Linked DNA regions of Homo sapiens: region 1 is linked to region 2. A link means that fine-mapping ties the variant in region 2 to the expression of a gene that starts in the linked region. Tissue or cell type: esophagus muscle. Region 2 holds a variant in brackets; the other region holds the start of a gene. All regions are shown on one strand. Distances are between the middles of the regions.

The links. PIP is the estimated chance that this variant, and not a neighbour inherited with it, causes the effect.
Region 1: it holds the start of KLHL35, and the variant in region 2 is fine-mapped to the expression of KLHL35 in esophagus muscle (GTEx, PIP above 0.99).

What each region holds. Positions count from the first base shown.
Region 1 is chr11:75,429,845-75,437,938 of GRCh38, forward strand. KLHL35 (kelch like family member 35) reads right to left here and starts at 3,359. Exons shown (of 7, transcript NM_001039548.3): 1 at 3,199-3,359; 2 at 1-786. The coding sequence starts at 785. It overlaps GDPD5 (glycerophosphodiester phosphodiesterase domain containing 5), which reads right to left. Exons shown (of 17, transcript NM_030792.8): 16 at 7,092-7,204; 17 at 4,796-5,811. The coding sequence ends at 5,663. RefSeq lists silencers at 339-388, 469-708 and an enhancer at 1,997-2,883.
Region 2 is chr11:76,165,137-76,173,230 of GRCh38, forward strand. No RefSeq gene overlaps it. Among named protein-coding and RNA genes, the nearest start is that of WNT11, 37 kb to the right of the region's middle. RefSeq lists an enhancer at 1-332. The variant G/A (reference allele first, on the strand shown) is at 3,125.

The sequences.
Region 1 (8,094 bases), 740 kb before region 2:
AGCAGCTCGTCCGCCTCCACCTTCTCCAGGAAGTAAGCGGGCGCCAGTAGCGGCAGGCGCACGTGCTCCAGCAGGCGTCGCAGCTGGCCGCGGCGGGCCGGCGCGTCGTGGCGCACCCAGCGCATGGCCGCTTCAAACACGGCCTCCTCGCGCGCCACGCCCAGCGCGGGGTCCGCCAGCAGCGCCACCACCTCGTCAGGCGCCAGCTCCAGGAAGTCGGCGTGGCGCGCCACCTCGGCGAAGGCCTGACGCAGGACGCGGCCGCAGCGCTCGGCCAGCGGGGCCAGCGAGAAGGCGGCGGCCACGCGGCGCAGCGCTAGGCTGTTGGCGGCGCGCAGGCGGCCCTCGAGAAAGCGCACGCAGGCCTCGCGCAGGCCCGCCACGCCCAGCCGCTCCGCCAGCGCCAGCACGGCCGCCGCCTCGTCCTCCGCGCGCAGCCGCACGCCCGCTCCGTACACGTAGTCGAGCACCACGGCCAGCGCCGCCGCCGCCCCGGCCGGGCTCGTGCCTGGCGCCTCGGGAGCTACTGGCACCACTGGCACCACGGCCGGGCCGCGCTCGGGCCGCCCGGCCGCGAACAAGCTGCGGAAGTAGGCGCTGCCCGCGCTGAGCGCCGCGCGGTGGCACGGAAAGTCGCGCCCGCCGGCGCGCAGCACCACGTCGGTGAGGGTGCCGCTCCGCCGGTAGGCGTTCAGGGCCTGCAGCACGCGCTGCGCGTGGCACGGACCCGCGCACGGCGCTTCGCAGCCCGGCTCCGACTCCTCCGGCGCATGGCCTTGCCGCATCCTGCCGGGGAGAGAACACAAACAGCGTCGGGGAAGCCACCTGGCTGCGCCCGGGAGAGGCGACAGCCCTCATCCGTTTATTTCCTCTCTTGACCATTTGTTCAGCGACTCTCCCCTCCGTTCAGCATCCAGGTTCCTTACGGCTACAGTGCCCCAGCCCCGCCTCACCAGCGCGACATTCTGCCCTGCCTACCCACTCAGACACAGTGCCCTTTTCGGTTCTTCAAACTTGCTAAGCGTTTTCCTATCGATATCTGCAGGTAACAGATGGCACGCTCTCAAACAGGGTAATCGGAGGAGGGTCTAATAAAGGAACTATTTTCAACAGCGGAGTAGGCGTTAGGGACTCCAGTAGGAGTAGGGCTGTGTCCCAGGATACTAACAGCAGGGCGCCTTGGCCGCCCCGGGGTCTGTAGCGGGAGAGCAGGGAAGTTACTGGAACCTGGAAATATATCTGTGTAAGGAGGGTCCCGTGACAGGAGCTGAAGCCCTGGGTCAAGGGACTCAGGCTGCCCCACAGAGACCCAGTGTGTGCATGTGCAGGGGAGAGAGGGTACAATAACTCCACCGCCCTCTGCTCAATCCAGCCTGTCTCCTGCCGATCTCCGGTAGGTGCTGGACACTGACCACACCCTGAGCACTCCCCTGACAGACAGCATCATACACACAGCTTTCGCGCAAACGAATTCGACAAGTATTTATTGGGAGCCCTTTCTGTGCCAGGCAGTGAGCAAGACAACCATAGTTACGGTGTGCCCGGAGCTCCCAGCCTGGCGGGGGTGCCATGGGGAGGCACCGGGTGTTAGGGGAGTTCATAGAAGGGCCGCTGGACCCAGGTGGAGGGGAGTCAGGGAGGGCGTCCCTGAGGGGAACCTTCCAGCTGAGAAGGATGGGCGAATTCTGAAAGGTTAGAGCCCAGGCTGAGGGAAGCTGGCCCTCTCTCTAGTGAGTTCTCTTGGTGTTCTCCAGGTAGCACCGTCAGAAAGTGGAAAGAACTCTAGGGACAAATGGGGATTCTAACCCAGTGCCTGCCACAGGCTTACGGTGTGGCCGGGGCAAGTCACTCCTCTCACCTGCCCGCCCTGGCCTCAGTTATCTCATCTGAAATGGGATCATCATCCCTACCTCACAGGGCTGTGGCTTCATGACTATTACATGGGCTGTATGAAAAGTGCTAGTACACAGTACGAGCTACATGGGTGTTTCCCTATATTGCTTTTACTCAAGAGGAAGGGAGGACACTGTGTGTGCCAGTTGCTTTTATAGACATAATTTAATTTCATCCTCACAAGCTGAGAAGTTTCTTTAGCCCACACCTGCCCCTTTAGTTTGTCATAAGGGAAACAAGCACACACAGGACACCCGCCCTTCAGAAGTTTGCGGCGAGGCTCAGCAGAGGGGTGTTTGTGAAGGCGCTCTGCAGACTGAGGGGCTGGGCCATGCTGGTTATGATTTGGCCATTATGAACACAAAACCTCTGCTTGCACACCTCCAGGGACAGGGAGCTCCCTCCTTTCCATCAGCTTACTCTAGGGGGCTCAGGTCCACCCTCTGCGCCCTGCCTCTCCTTCCATCCTCCTGCTCCCAGCTGCTCTGCTGCCTCTGGAGGTCAGATCCCGCCTAGTGTCAGCCTGGCTTTCATGCCCTGGTCATCCAGGGCAGCGGATCCCCTGGTCAGCATCATGAGAGATGAGCTCCCTGGTGGGCAAGAAAGTTAACTACTTTTGCCCAAGTAGAGCGACTGGATCCTGAATCCACCTGGCTCCAGGGTTTGCATGCCACACTTGCCAGGGTGGGGGTGTGTCCCAAGGAGCAGCCAGGACCGGTGGAAGGAAGTGAGACCGGTCATCACAGCACGCTGCAACCAGTCTGTCCTCCACTGGCTCAGAAAGCACAACCATGCTCTGAGTTGAGACTCAAGAGGGCAGGTCTCATCAGCATAAGGATGGACTTCTTGCAAAGGTGCCCCACAGCACAAGCAGCTCCCTGGGGGAGAAAGAGTCCCCTCCTAGGAAGTGTGTCAGTACTTTTTCATTTTACTGTCTACTGCGCTGGGCACTCTGGACACACAGTGACATCAGATCCAGCATTCACTCTGGGGATCCCCAGTCTGGGGGTCAAACGACACCCAGTTGGAACACAGAAGGTAAAAATTCCCAGGTAGGGCTCAATGGGTATCCTCCCTTCTCGGCTGAGTCTAGGCACTTCAAGCCAGGGGTCATGATGCAGATTGAAGGGCCCAGCCTATAGAAGCTGACTCGAACATGCCACCATCACTCTTTTACACACCCACATCCACTTGAAGCCATTACCCAAGCACCTCCTCCGCATCCTCCCCATCTCAGACTTGCGGACACCACGCAGCCGGGTCAGCCCTGCAGCCTAAGCCTTGCCCCATGCACCTGGCACTTACCTGGCCATACCCTCTCCCAAGTGCTCCGCAGCTGCTGCTCTCACAGGTATCACTCCCGTTTGTGCCTGCCGCCCGCACCCCTGGCAGCCCAAGCTCCAGTGTTCATGCTGCTCTGCCCAGACTCCCGTTTGCTGTTCGCTCGGGCTCAGCTGCGGGAGGACAAAGGGGCTGGACGCCAGGAGGGAGGGGAAGGGAGGGGAAGGGAGAAGCGAGCAGGGAGGGGGATGCTGGGCTTTTGTTCCACTCTTGGACTAGCCCTGGGAGGGAGGGAAAGAAAGGGGGGGCATAAGAGTGGGATTGACTGTGTGTGGAACTCCAGGATTTGGTATGCCTGGGTTTGGGGGTGACCTGGTGCTGGCCTTGTCCCGGAATGACGATGGGTTCGAAGGTGTGTGGTGCTGGAGTTGGGGTGTGGGAGGGGTGTCATCATGCAGTTGTAGGCATGTAGGTTTCAGGGTGACTATGCGTGATTGTGGAAGTACATGGAATGAAGTGACTGTGTAGCATTGGGCTGCGTGTGGACATGTGGCTGTGTGACCATGTAGATGCCAATGTGACTAAGCATGTGGGGCGGGGGGCACAGTGGCTCTGAGTCTCATTCCCTTGAGCTCAGGGAGAGGCGGGAGCTGACCTCTGCCCCAGGAAGCAGAGCACTTGCCAGACATTCAGTAGCAGGGGCAGGAGGGCCGGTCCTCGAGGTTACTGTGGGGGCCCAGTGGAGCTTCCAACATTTGCAGAGGGCTCTTTTCTTTTTTACCTATAAGGTGCCAGAATCTCCTAGACCCCAAGAATTCTATCCAGAAGATCCCTGTTTGGAAGAGACACGTCCCTTGGCTCCCAGGAAGCATGGAGTTAATTTGATGCAGGCTGGAGCTGGGGCTCAGCTTCCCCCTTTTCCCTCAGGTCACACCCATGACCAGGCAGACTCTCAGGACAAAGAGGGGAGTTACAGGCCTGCTCTGACACCACCACTGACTCCTGCCCACAGACAGCAGAGGTCCCAAGGACTGGAAGGAAAGGACACCTGTGGTCCCAGGGCTGTACTTTGGCTTTCAGCTCAGGTGCCCCCAGTCCTGGGCATGGGCATGGGCCCTCCTCAGGCAGGTCCAAAGCTCGGAGAAGTCAAAGCCAAACTCCTGGCATGGGGAAGAGGCCTCCCTGTGCTGAGGGCTTGTCCCAACATAGCCGGGAGGTTCAGAATGCCTTCATGTGGCTGTGAGGGCACCTGCCAGTCCCACTCCCAGCCCTACATTGGACCCAGGAGCCCTCCCCCTCTGCGTGTCATTCCTAGCTTATGGGAGGCACACATATGCGCTGGGGCCAGAGTCTGGATGGGATTCTGGCTTGGCCTGTTCTAAGCTGTGTGGCTTTTGGAGGTCACTTTACCTCTCCAAGACTGTCTCCCCATCCACCATATGAGGATACCGGCTCCCAGCCACTGGCACCATGGCGGACCCAGGGAAGGGGAGGCACCATTCTGCCACTTTCCCATTCATTCCTGAGAATGGTTCCTCCTCAGATTATAGGGTCAGAACTGAAACCTAGACCCAGCGCACTTGTCCCCACCCTCCTGCTGGCAATTCAGAGACAACACACATCAAGATGGCAGCTTTAATCACATTGGCCAAGGGCCCTAGGTTCCCTCTGTTCAGGCCCACTTAGCCACACACCCACCCTGGCCATATCCAGAACACTTCTACCAGGTGGGCCCTGCCCTGTGGCCACTGATGTGGGAACCTGAGGTCACATCAGTCTGTGGACTCCTGGGTTAGGTGACCCTTCTGCCTTGAGGTCTGCTGGACACCTGGGCATGGGATCCAGTAGTCCTGAGCTCACTCTTTTGGCCATCTCCAGCTGCTCCTAGAGGACGTGGCTCAGGCCCGCTCCTGGGGCAGGGGGTTGGCGGTGGCATGAGGTGGGTTGGGGAGGAGGACGTGTCTCCACATTGCAGCTGGCTTCCTCCTGGGCTGAACCTCCTTGTGCTTTGAGACTGACAGGAAGAGCAGAGTTGCTTCAGGTAGAGGCTCGGCCCAGGCCCTTGGGGCAGGATAACAGCAGAGAACTCAGGTGCCTCCTGGCACAGACAGGAGGACAGATGGCACAGGTGAGCATCCACACACTCCATTGCCACAGGGGGTATGGCATGGCCCATGACCCATCAAAGCTTCCAGGTCGGGATACAGGAGAGGGCCTCAGAAGAGGGGGACCAAGCCCTAGGCCCCATACTTCCCAGAAGGAGCCCCAGGCCTGCAGGGGCATCTGAAAGGATGGAGTCCTGGCCCAGCTGGGCCTCAGGAGACAGGGAGTCCCCCTCAAGAGAGGCTGCGGCTGACAAGGGGCTGGAGCCCACAAGGAGGCTGTGGAGCCCGCTCCCAGAGCACTCCGAGTTCAGACACACTTCCACCAGCTCTCCTAGGCTCCCCAGCTTCTGTGTCAGGTACAGGTGGGACAGACATGTCTTCAGCTAACGCCCACTCCGCTCTATGAGGGTCTTGGTGTGGCTGCCACCCCCTCGGGGGCCCACAGGGGTGGCGGTGCTGTTGGCATATGTGTCATAACTGTTGTCTGAACATACGGAGAGCACATCGGAGACCTCTACACCATCGCTGATCTCTGCTGGGCCAGAGGGAGACAGAATGTGAGTCGGGGAGGAGGCAGTCGTGAGGATGGGTGACAGATGGGGCAGGAAGGCTGCACCACCCAGCGGGGCACTTGGAGGCTGATGAAACCACTGGGCTCAGGTCGACATTGAGCCTGGCACTCAAGGCCCCTTTGGTGTCTGCTGAGCACTCTAGCTTCGCCTTCATCTGCTGTCCCCTGGGACTCTGCAGCCACAGAAAACCACCTGTGCCCCTGAGCTTGGCACCCATGTGTCCACTCTCCTCAGGGCCTTTGCATGTGTCAGCCCCTCTCTTAGGAGTGACTGCCCCAACAACACCTCCTTTTCCTACAGTCTGGCTCAAGTCTTCTCATCTGTCACTCAGCCTCCTGGGAACCTCATCGGAGCCCTGGGCCGAGTTAGGGCCTCCTCATGGCAACTCCAGACCCTGCTTCCTTCTGCCCTGGCCATATTCTGTATGGTTGCTGCCTGGGCCCCCAAAATACCTCAAGGACCAGGGTGGGTTCTGGGCATCTATGTCCCCAGGGCCTGGTAGAGTGCTGGACACAGAGCAGAGGCTCAAGAAAGCTCTGCTGAGTGGAGTTCGGCCATATAGAGGGACACTTCATTCTTGGTGCCCAGGCAAGCGGTGCTCCCTTGCCACCTCTGCACACATGCCGTGCCCACCTGGAATGCCCTTCCTTCCCTCAGCTCACTCGGCCCTCATCTTGAAGCCATTACCAAAGCACCTCCTCTGCATCCTCCCCATCTCAGTGTATCAGGCGCCCAAAGCCTTCCTCACTGCCCAGGCAGCTCTGACCACGTCCTCCCGCCCCCCGCCCGGCACTCCCATCGCAGGAACTCGACTTTCCCTGCCACTGTTTATATACGTAGCTGCTGCTTCCATCAGACTGGGAATGTTGACAGGGACTGGCAAAGAGCAAGGGTGAGGCCAACATTGTAGGATCCAAGTACGAACCAGGCAAAGGGGGATGGGCCTTCAAAACAGACTCCTCTCCCTACCCCACCCCTGCCCACCAACCATGGCACTGACACCAAGCCATGGTGGATGACAGGGTGGATGACTGTGTGTGTGGGGGTGTGTGTTTTCACACGTGTACTTATGCCTTTGTATGTCTGTGGGTATAATCCCGGTGGGTTTATGTACGTCTGTGCCCTTGTCCCTACCCATATGTGCCACATGTGAATGTGTGTGCATACACATCTGTTTGCATGTGGGGGTGCAGAAAGCTGGGCCCAGGGCCTGCCTCCACCTGTCTGCAGGGCTGTGTACCTGAGAAAATAAGCTTCTCCTTCATGATGCTGACGTCCCGGCTGGTCCGGCGCACCGCAGCACTCAGCATGATCTGCTCAGGGTTGTAGCTCCGTATGCCACCCAGGCGCCACCTGCAGAGATGGCCCCGTGGGCATCAGGTCTCTCCTCAGCCCTCCCTTGGAGCAGAGACCCTGCCTACTTCCAGAGCCTCTCTGGATGTGGCCCAAGAGACCAGCAGGACTCTTGTCCCACTGTACAATGGGGAAATAGGCCCAGAGAGGGCAGAGTTGGGGCTTGAATCAGAGCCTACTGACTCTCGGCCAGGGCTCCCTGGCCTCCCTCTTACCTCCAGAGCCGCCAGTCAGCAGCCCTGGCCCAGGACTAGGGTTGGTTAGTTCTGTCTCAGGTGTCCCCAGTAATGCACCTGGCTCTCTTTGAATGGGACAGATTTGGGAGCAGGAGGAGCTTAGTAGGCACGACTCTGTTGACCTAAGCTGGGGCACACACCAATCTCAGGGAGTCCCAGCTGATGTCTCTTATAGCTCCACCATCATGACCAGACTAAGTGAAGCCATTGGGGAGACCCCTTGAGAGGGAGGGAAGGAAAGCAGGGGGGTGGGGCCAGGTGGTAGGGGGCTTTGCCCAGAGCTGGTCTGCACAGGTTCCCAAGGCAAGGGGGTTAGAGTGACTTGGAGTGGGGCCAACTGCTGCTCTGTCCTGGCAGTCCTAATGCGGAGGGAGGTCAGAGCATGAATCCCTCTGATGGCTGAGACAGGTGCAAGGTGGGGGTAAAATTACTCAAGAGTGGGCTGGGAGGTGGAGCATGCACAGGGCATGAAGGGACCAGGCACTAAGTGGAAAGGACTCAGGTTTCTGTGCCCAGCCCAGGCCACTGTCTTCACTATTGTCATTCCTCTGAACTAGCCCCAGTCCCTGGCCTCTGAACTTAGACCTTTCCTGGGATCTAGGCAGAAGGATCACTGGACTCTCACCCCTGTCCCCACCAGGAGGAGGGGGTGAT
Region 2 (8,094 bases):
GGGACGCATGCACGGGAGGACACACGCACGGAAGGGACATGCGCACAGGGGTGACAAATGCACAGGGTTGACTCACGCACGGGGGGCCGCACGCATGGGGAGACATAGGCACGGGGGGGACACAGGCACGGGGGGGACATAGGCACGGGGGGGACGTAGGCACAGCGGGGACATACACACAGGGGAGATGCAGGCACAGGGAGGACGCATGCAAGGTGGGACACATGCACAAGGGGGACGCACGCACAAGGAGGACATGTGCACGGGGGGGATGCATGCACGGGGGGACGTACGCATGGGGAGAGACATGCTTGGGAGGACGCACGCACAGGGAGGACACACGCACGGGGGGATGCACGCACAGTGGGGACACACGCACACGGAGGACACATGCATAGGGTCGTGGGAAGTGGAGCTGCTGCCAAAGACAGGCCCGGGGAGTGGAGATGGGTTCTCCCTCCACGCTTGCCCGCCCTCTCTCTTCATCCTTCTGCTGCTCTTGTTCATCCATGTATTCAGAGAATGTTGTCAGGGTCCCCGAGGGCTGTCTGGGACCTCTTCATCCTTGGTTTGAGCCCACTAGAGCTCAGAAGCAAAACCAGTATCTCAGAACCCGAACTCCAAACTCAAGTGTGCAGCCCAGAATGAGGACTGGCGGGCAGGGGAGGCTGGCAGCCACTACCCTCACAAGGCTTCCACAACTCTAAAAATCCATGCTCCCTTTCGGTGGCCATACAAATTTCATGCCTCATTTTATTTTATTATTTTATTTTATTTTGAGATGGAGTAGGGCTGGAGTGCAGTGGCACCGTCTTGGCTCACTGCAACCTCTGCCTCTTGAATTCAAGCGATTCTTGTGCCTCAGCCTCCTGAGTAGCTGGGAACACAGGCAGGTGCCACCATGCCCGGGTAATTTTTATATTTTTAGTAGAGATAGGGTTTCTCCATGTTGCCCAGGCTGGTCTCTAAGTCCTGAGCTCAGGCAATCCACCTGCCTCAGCCTCTGAAAGTGCTGGGATTGCAGGCGTGGGCACCACTCCTGGCCTCATGCCATCTTTTAATATTCTCTTAATATTTGAAAATCAAAGCGAATTCAATCCTGTGACAAAATGTGAATGAGAGCAAGGGGACTTGGCTGTGCCCCCGTGTTGGGGGGAACATCCTGGCCTCCCCACCTATAGAGAATCACTGCAGGCAGATTGGCAGCAGGATAGAGCCCCCAGACCTGCAGCACACAAGGGCTGCTAGTGTCCCTTACACTCACGCAGGAGGGTACCTGCAGGAGGCCAGCCCTGTCTTCCGACAGCTCAGCCAGTTAGGCTCCTCGCGCTGGTCAGTGCCCTTTCAAATGCAAGCTCTCCTCTGGGGGATGGAACCCAGTCCCTCAGTCCTTAGCGTGAGAGGGCAGCTGATGCATGCCTATTGCCAACCACATCTTGACATTTTCTGTGGCTTTTAGGGGTTTTGTTTTGAAGCAAAAAGGGTGACTCAGAGGCCCAGAGAACTCCAAGGTTGTAACCCTAGAGACCAGGGCGAGCATCCTACCAAGATCAGGTGGATCATCTCAGTTCCCCAACAGGCAGGGAGGGAGAATCACCTGGAACCCTTGTGTTTTTTAAATTTATGTTTTATAGAGATAGGATCTGGGTCTCACTCTATTGCCCAGGCTGGCCTGGAACTCCAGGGCTCAAACAATCCTCCTATCTCGTGGGATTACAGGTGTGAGCCACCTTACCTGACCTGGAACCCTTGCTAAAATGCAGACTCCCAGACCCAGCCCACCCTATTGAGTCGAAATCTCTCTATTTTTTGTTTTAGGCAGGTCCTGACAAAGTTGTGTGTATGTGCATGCCGTGCAGGGGTCTTTCAGCCCAGCCCTCACCTCTGCTAGGCACAGCCCCTTGGCTTTGCGGGCACCTCCCATAGGGTCAGCATACACAGAGTCACGGGCAACCCATGGAACTGAAGGAAGATGTCACCGCGCTGCTAACACAGCCTCACTAGTCAAAACCTGGTTCTGCGCTTCCTCCTTTCTTTCTTTTTCTTTCTTTTTTTTGAGACGGAGTTTTGCTTTTGTTGCCCAGGCTGTAGTGGAATGGTGCAATCTCGCTCACTGCAACCTCCACCTCCCACGTTCAAGAGATACTCCTGCCTCAGCCTCCCGAGTAGCTGGGATTACAGGCAAGTGCTGCCACGCCCGGCTAATTTTGTATTTTTAGTAGAGACAGGGTTTCTCCATGTTGGTCAGGCTGGTCTCAAACTCCCGAACTCAGGTGATCTGCCCGCCTCGGCCTCCCAAAGTGCTGCCTCTTCTCTTTTATGAACAGGAAGAACAATTAAGGAAGAGGTGCTGACACTCCAGGACCCCTGAGAGGCGTCGAGGAGCCTGAGGAGGGCGGCTGCCTCCATTACAGTTCTTCGAAGGTTTGTTGACTGCATGAATGAAGGAGATAACAGGGCCAGACTCCCAGGCATGTGGGCCCTGTGGGGTCCAGCTGGCAGCCCTCACCACTGTGACCACGGGACAGGTGGGCGGCCCACTGAGCCAACGCCCATCTGCCACGGGCTGATGCGGTGAGAGCACAGCTGGAGGCCTGGCCGGGGGTCTCCTTCCTTCCGGCCCCCCGGTCAAGTTCACTGTGAAGAGAGGAGGTGAGACGTCCAGCCCGCCCTGGGATCCCCGTGGGAGCCCAGTTATTTACTGGAAACAGTGAGGGATGAATTCTTGGCAGCTTCACTCCATGCGAAGCAGAGACACGGCTCAGCACCAGTCTGGTTTTGATCAGTTCCAACCAAACAGACAGCTTGTTAAACCTGAGCTGAAGGCCTCCCTTCTGGAACCCTTGCCCTGCCCTCCCCTCCCACCCCAGGGCTGTAAGGCCCCCTTGAAGAGCAGTGGGTCCAGCCCGCCCATTTTACAGATGGAGAGACCAGGCTGGAGTGCAATGGCATGATTTTTGGCTCACTGCAGCCTCCGCCTCCTAGGTTCAAGTGATTCTCCTGCCTCAGCCTCCCCAGTAGCTGGGATTACAGGCACCCGCTACCACGCCCAGCTAATTTTTGTATTTTTAGTAGAGACGGGGTTTCACCATGTTGGCCAGGCTGGTCTCAAACTCCTGACCTC[G/A]TGATCCGCCCGCCTCGGCCTCCCAAAGTGCTGGGATTACAGGCGTGAGCCACCGCCCCTGGCCACCCTCAAGGCCCTTTGATCTTCCGCCACTTCCAGTAGCTGGAGCCTGGGCTGGCAGGGCCCCAGCAGTGATGGATGTGCCCTCCTGGCATCCCGTTGGGAAACACGTGTCCACTCACGCAGGTCCTGGGGCTTCTGCCCGGCATTCAAGCCCCCAGCCCTGGCTCCCATGGCTCATTTGCCCACACGCAGCCCTTATGTCCACTCAGTGCCTTTATCTCCCCCAGCCACATTGTCTCTGCCCCCACCGTCTCGTCCTGTAGAGCCGTCCAGGCCAGAGTCAAGTTTATGAGTTCCTGATCTAGTTCACACATGGCTTTCACGTGTGGCCCCTCACTTTATCCCCACCATTACTTGTGAAGCAGGTGCCACTGTGATGGTCCCCATTTTACAGAGGGAGCCACTGAGGCTTGGAGATGCAAAGTCACTGCCTGCTGTTGGTGAGCAGGGATTGAGGTTCTGATCTGTATGTTCACTTGCTGCAGGGCTTGGCCAAGAGGCTCAAAAAATCCTGGAGTCAGGGCTAGAAGGAGTCTGGGGAGGGAGTGGCATTTAATCCAAACTCAGGAGATCACTAACACTCAGAATCTTGGAAACTCTGTGCCTGGAAGGACTCTTGCTGGTCACTGAAACCACCCACCCCACTCAGCAGTAGCCTCCAGCCCTTGCTTGGACACTCCCAGGGATCGGAAGCGCACTTCTTCCCACTTGGGTCAGCGCCTGCCCTTGTGGGACTGCTGTGACTGGAGGAACACCTTTTCTCCCACAGAGCCAAGAGCTGTGTGCCTCCCAGGCCAATCAGAGTCTGGAGGCCACCACAGAGGGCCCCTGGGTCCTCTTCCTTCCAGGCAGGCAACAAGGGAGGAATGGGGTGAGGTGGACCTCTGGGGCTGGGCTGGAGAGGGGGGAGGTTCCCAGCTCAGGCCACAAGGGCAGAGCAGGAAGTTCAACCCCACCTGCCACTGATGTGTGGCCCCCACGAAGTCTCTGCCCATCTCCGAGTCCTATTTCTCCATCTGGAAATGAGAGAGGGCAGCTGAGAGGCTGACAAGCTCCCAGTTCGCAGTGTGGGCATCATCAAGGGCTGTGGGAATCTCAGGTGACCTTTGACTGCCCTCATCTCCCCAAGGTTGTGGGGGTGCCGCACCAGCAGCTCCTTCCAAGCATTGATTCACAGCTGGGGAGCACCTGGTGGGCAGATGTGGGCTCCCGTCACCCTGCTGGATCCTGCTTGTGTGCAGGCATGAGTGTTCGTGTGTGTGCGTGTTGTGCACATACGTGTCTGAGAGTGCATTGGGAAGTGAGGGCAGCACCCAGTGGGGTCAGGGGAAGGTGCTGGGTCTGCTGACTCACAGTGGGACCCTGGGAAGTCCCTGGCCCATCGCGCCCAGCCCCTCACGGGCCCTGAGTAGTGCCCTTCTGAGCAGAGCCTCCGCTGCAGCTCAGGGCCCTGGGGCTGTGGGGGCGTGAATGTGCCTTCTCCGCCCCAACCTCCGCCCGTGCCAGACACCGAGGCAGCGAGTGAGTCTGCCTCAGGCAACGAGTGTCTCAGGAGGATGCAGCCATGCAGGGCATTTTCTGAGAGCAAAGAGAGCCTGGTGTCAAGGTTGGGTGGAGGGGGTGAGGCCTTGCTCCACCTCCCAGAGTCTGGTTGGAGGTGCAGGGAGAGGGGTCACTGGCTCCCCCAGAGTCGGCCCCCAGAGTCGGCCCAAGCGATCTCAATGGCCCTGTGAGGTCAAGGATGAATTCCCCCTTCCACAGAGGAAGAAACCAGGGGGACCTAGCCAAGGTCACTCCCTCAGGGCTGACTTTTTATTTTACTTTATTTTACTTTACATTATTTTACTTTTTATTTTATTTTATTTTATTTTTGAGATGGAGTCTTGCTCTGTCGCCCAGGCTGGAGTGCAGTGGCGCCATCTCGGCTCACTGCAAGCTCTGCCTCCCGGGTTCACACCATTCTCCTGCCTCAGCCTCCCGAGTAGCTGGGACTACAGGCGCCCGTCAACACACCCGGCTAATTTTTTGTATTTTTTTAGTAGAGACAGGGTTTCACCGTGTTAGCCAGGATGGTCTCGATCTCCTGACCTCGTGATCTGCCCACCTCGGCCTCCCAAAGTGCTGGGATTACAGGCGTGAGCCACCGCACCCGGCCAGGGCTGACTCCTCAGCCAGCAGTTGCCCCACACAGGACTCAGGGGAGGATTCTGCTGGGCCTGGGTGGCAGGTGGGGCTGGAGTGCTCTTTGGCCTCCCAAGAATATGGGAGTGAGAGAGGCTCTGGGCAGGACCCTGCTGCCCTGCAAACTAGCATCCACACCTCAGGGCAGGGCTTGGTGTTTTCCAGCTGGGAGGAGGTCAGGCTGCAGGAGGGGATCTGGGAACGATTTGGTAATTAGGCAAGAGGCCTTGACAAGCAGCCTCCGGGGGGTCCATTCAGGGGGGGCCCTGTGGCCTGTGGTGAGGCTGGCCACTTGCCAGCCCCATCCTCACTGGTCCCCCAAGGCCCCTCTGCTCACTGCCAGCACTCCCAGTGCACCAATAGCTCTGACTGAGCAAGGAGTGGCTGAGGGCTTCATCCCGCTCCAGCCTCAGTCACCGTGGATGGACTCCACAGCCCTGTGAGGCCGGCCCTTCTACTGGCCAAAGGGAAAATGAGGCCCAGAGAGGGGCTGCACTTTGTCCAAATCCACACAGTGAGGCTGGCTTGGGCCAGCCCTCTCTGCAGCCCCAGAGAGGCCACAGGGCAGCTCTGCAGGTGAGGGGTACCCGGGTTGCAACCTGCCATGCCCCTTGCTGAGAGGCCAGGGGGTGTGAAGAAACAAGCTACAGAAAAAAGCTGAGGGACCCAGTCAGGACAGGAGAGGGCGTGGGGAACAGGTGAATGTTGGGGGTCGGTCTCATTGTCCTCAGCTCTGGGAGGGAAAGGACTGAGGTGGGTTATAAGAGGTGGGCAGACATCATCCCACCGTCCCTGAATGCTAGAGCCCTGGAAGGGCCCGATGGAGCAGGGAGCTCTTGGCCTCAGCTTCCTGAGTCCTGACCAGCCGCCTGGCATCCCTCATCCCGGTACCGCCTCACCCCTCCCCTGAGCAGCCCTGGCTCTGAGCTGCCATCCACCCTGGTCTTGAACAGAAAAGAGGTGTGTGGGCTACCCCGACTCCTCCCAGTGCCCAGGGAGGGCCCCTCCTCAGGCGTCCCACCCTGGCAGTGGGGATGGCAGGCGGGAGGTTCTGCAGGGGGTGGTTGTCAGGGCCTGCACACTTGGGCTGGACCCACTGACACTGCGCTGACCGCCAGTGGTGCCAGGTCCTGTGCTGAACCCTCACAGGCATTCTCATATAATCACCCTAAATGGAGGCACAAGATGTGGCAACCAGTATCCCCGTCTCAGTCTTGACTCAGAGAAGCTTCGAGACAGAGACATACCCAGGAAGTCATCTGGTAGGTGGCAGGGCCAGATGGTCAGTAGGCCCCTCTGACCCCAAAGCCATGATTCCTCCCTACCCCCAATCCCCATCCTGCACTGCCTCCCATGGTGTGGCATGACCTGGAAATGAGGTATGATGTGGGTGGGTGCCCACAGACAAGCCAGGACAGGGGATTCAATCCATTCTGAAGAGGAGTCGGCCTAAGCGAAGGGAGTGGCTTCCATGCCCAAGGCAGGTGTGGAAAACAAGGCGTGGGGGGTGGCAGTGGGAGGAGGAAGAGGAAGAGGAGGAGAGGGGCCAGACCTCGAATGCCAGGGTGAGAAGTGGGTTGCACTCCAGACCAGCAGCTCCTCGAGGCCAGGGTGCCATGTCGTGACGCTGCCCCACACCGCTCAGAGCCCCACACAGGACAGGTGCTCCCCAAATCCCTGAGGTTTGTCCAGAGAACAGCCATTTCTCCAGGGGGCCCTGCGAAGTCACGAGGCCAAAAGGCCCCCAGCCCGCTTCCCGGTGAAAGCATTTGGTGGTGCCTGTGCTGGCGCCCTACCGGTCGGGGTGGTTGGGTGGGAGGCAGTCGGGGTTGAAGGGGATCTTCCCTCTCAAGCACCCCTGTCTTGTGCCTGCCTCTGCTCCCGTGCCAGCTCCAAAACAATCCCAGATGCTTCTGGCATCACCAGAGCCTTCAGAGTAAGGGAGGGCCTCCTCTCTCCCCTGGAGCCTCTGGCCACAGCATGCCCTCTGTACCCACCCGTGGTCAGACCCAGGTCTCGCCCAGATCTTTGAGCAGCCGATTTGTGTTCTCCCAACCCTTCATCTGGTAGCCAGATCCTCTGGCCTGGGTGGCGGCGGGGGTGGGGGGTCCTCCCCTTTCTCCTGAACCCCTTCTTGGCCCAGGGAAAGCACGACTCCCCTGGTGTCTGAGCCCGGCATTTGGAGCCCTGGGCTGGGCAGCCAGCATCCAGAGCCAAGAACCACAGGCTCACCGGAGTGCAGGGCCTGGGAACCGCTCACCCACGGAGGTGATGTGGAATCCGTCCGTGCCCCCCTCGTTGTGTGTCAGAGTGATTTATGGGCAGATGCTGAGAGAAGAGGCTGAGGAAAATAAGCCTTGCCAGCTGCCAACCTGTCACAGATCGGGAGAGAGGGAAAGGGCCGAGCTGCTTCATGACCTCCAGCAGGCTCCTTCCTTCTCTGGGCCTCTTCTGCCTCTGAAATCGGGGTCTGAAAGCCAGCCCCAAATCACAGACTTGCCAGAAGGATCAAGTGAGAAGTTGGCCGTCAAGCCCCTAGCGCAGAGCCTGGCACAAAACAGGTTGCACCCCTGCTCCAAACCTGCAGTGGCTCCCACGCTCCCTCAGTCTGACCCTCGTCCCTCACTGACATCATCTCCGGCCCCCATGGCTCTGGGGTTTACAAGAGCCGCCATCTGCATTGCGAGGTCTTCCTGGACCACTGAAATAGACTAGAATCCTTCCGA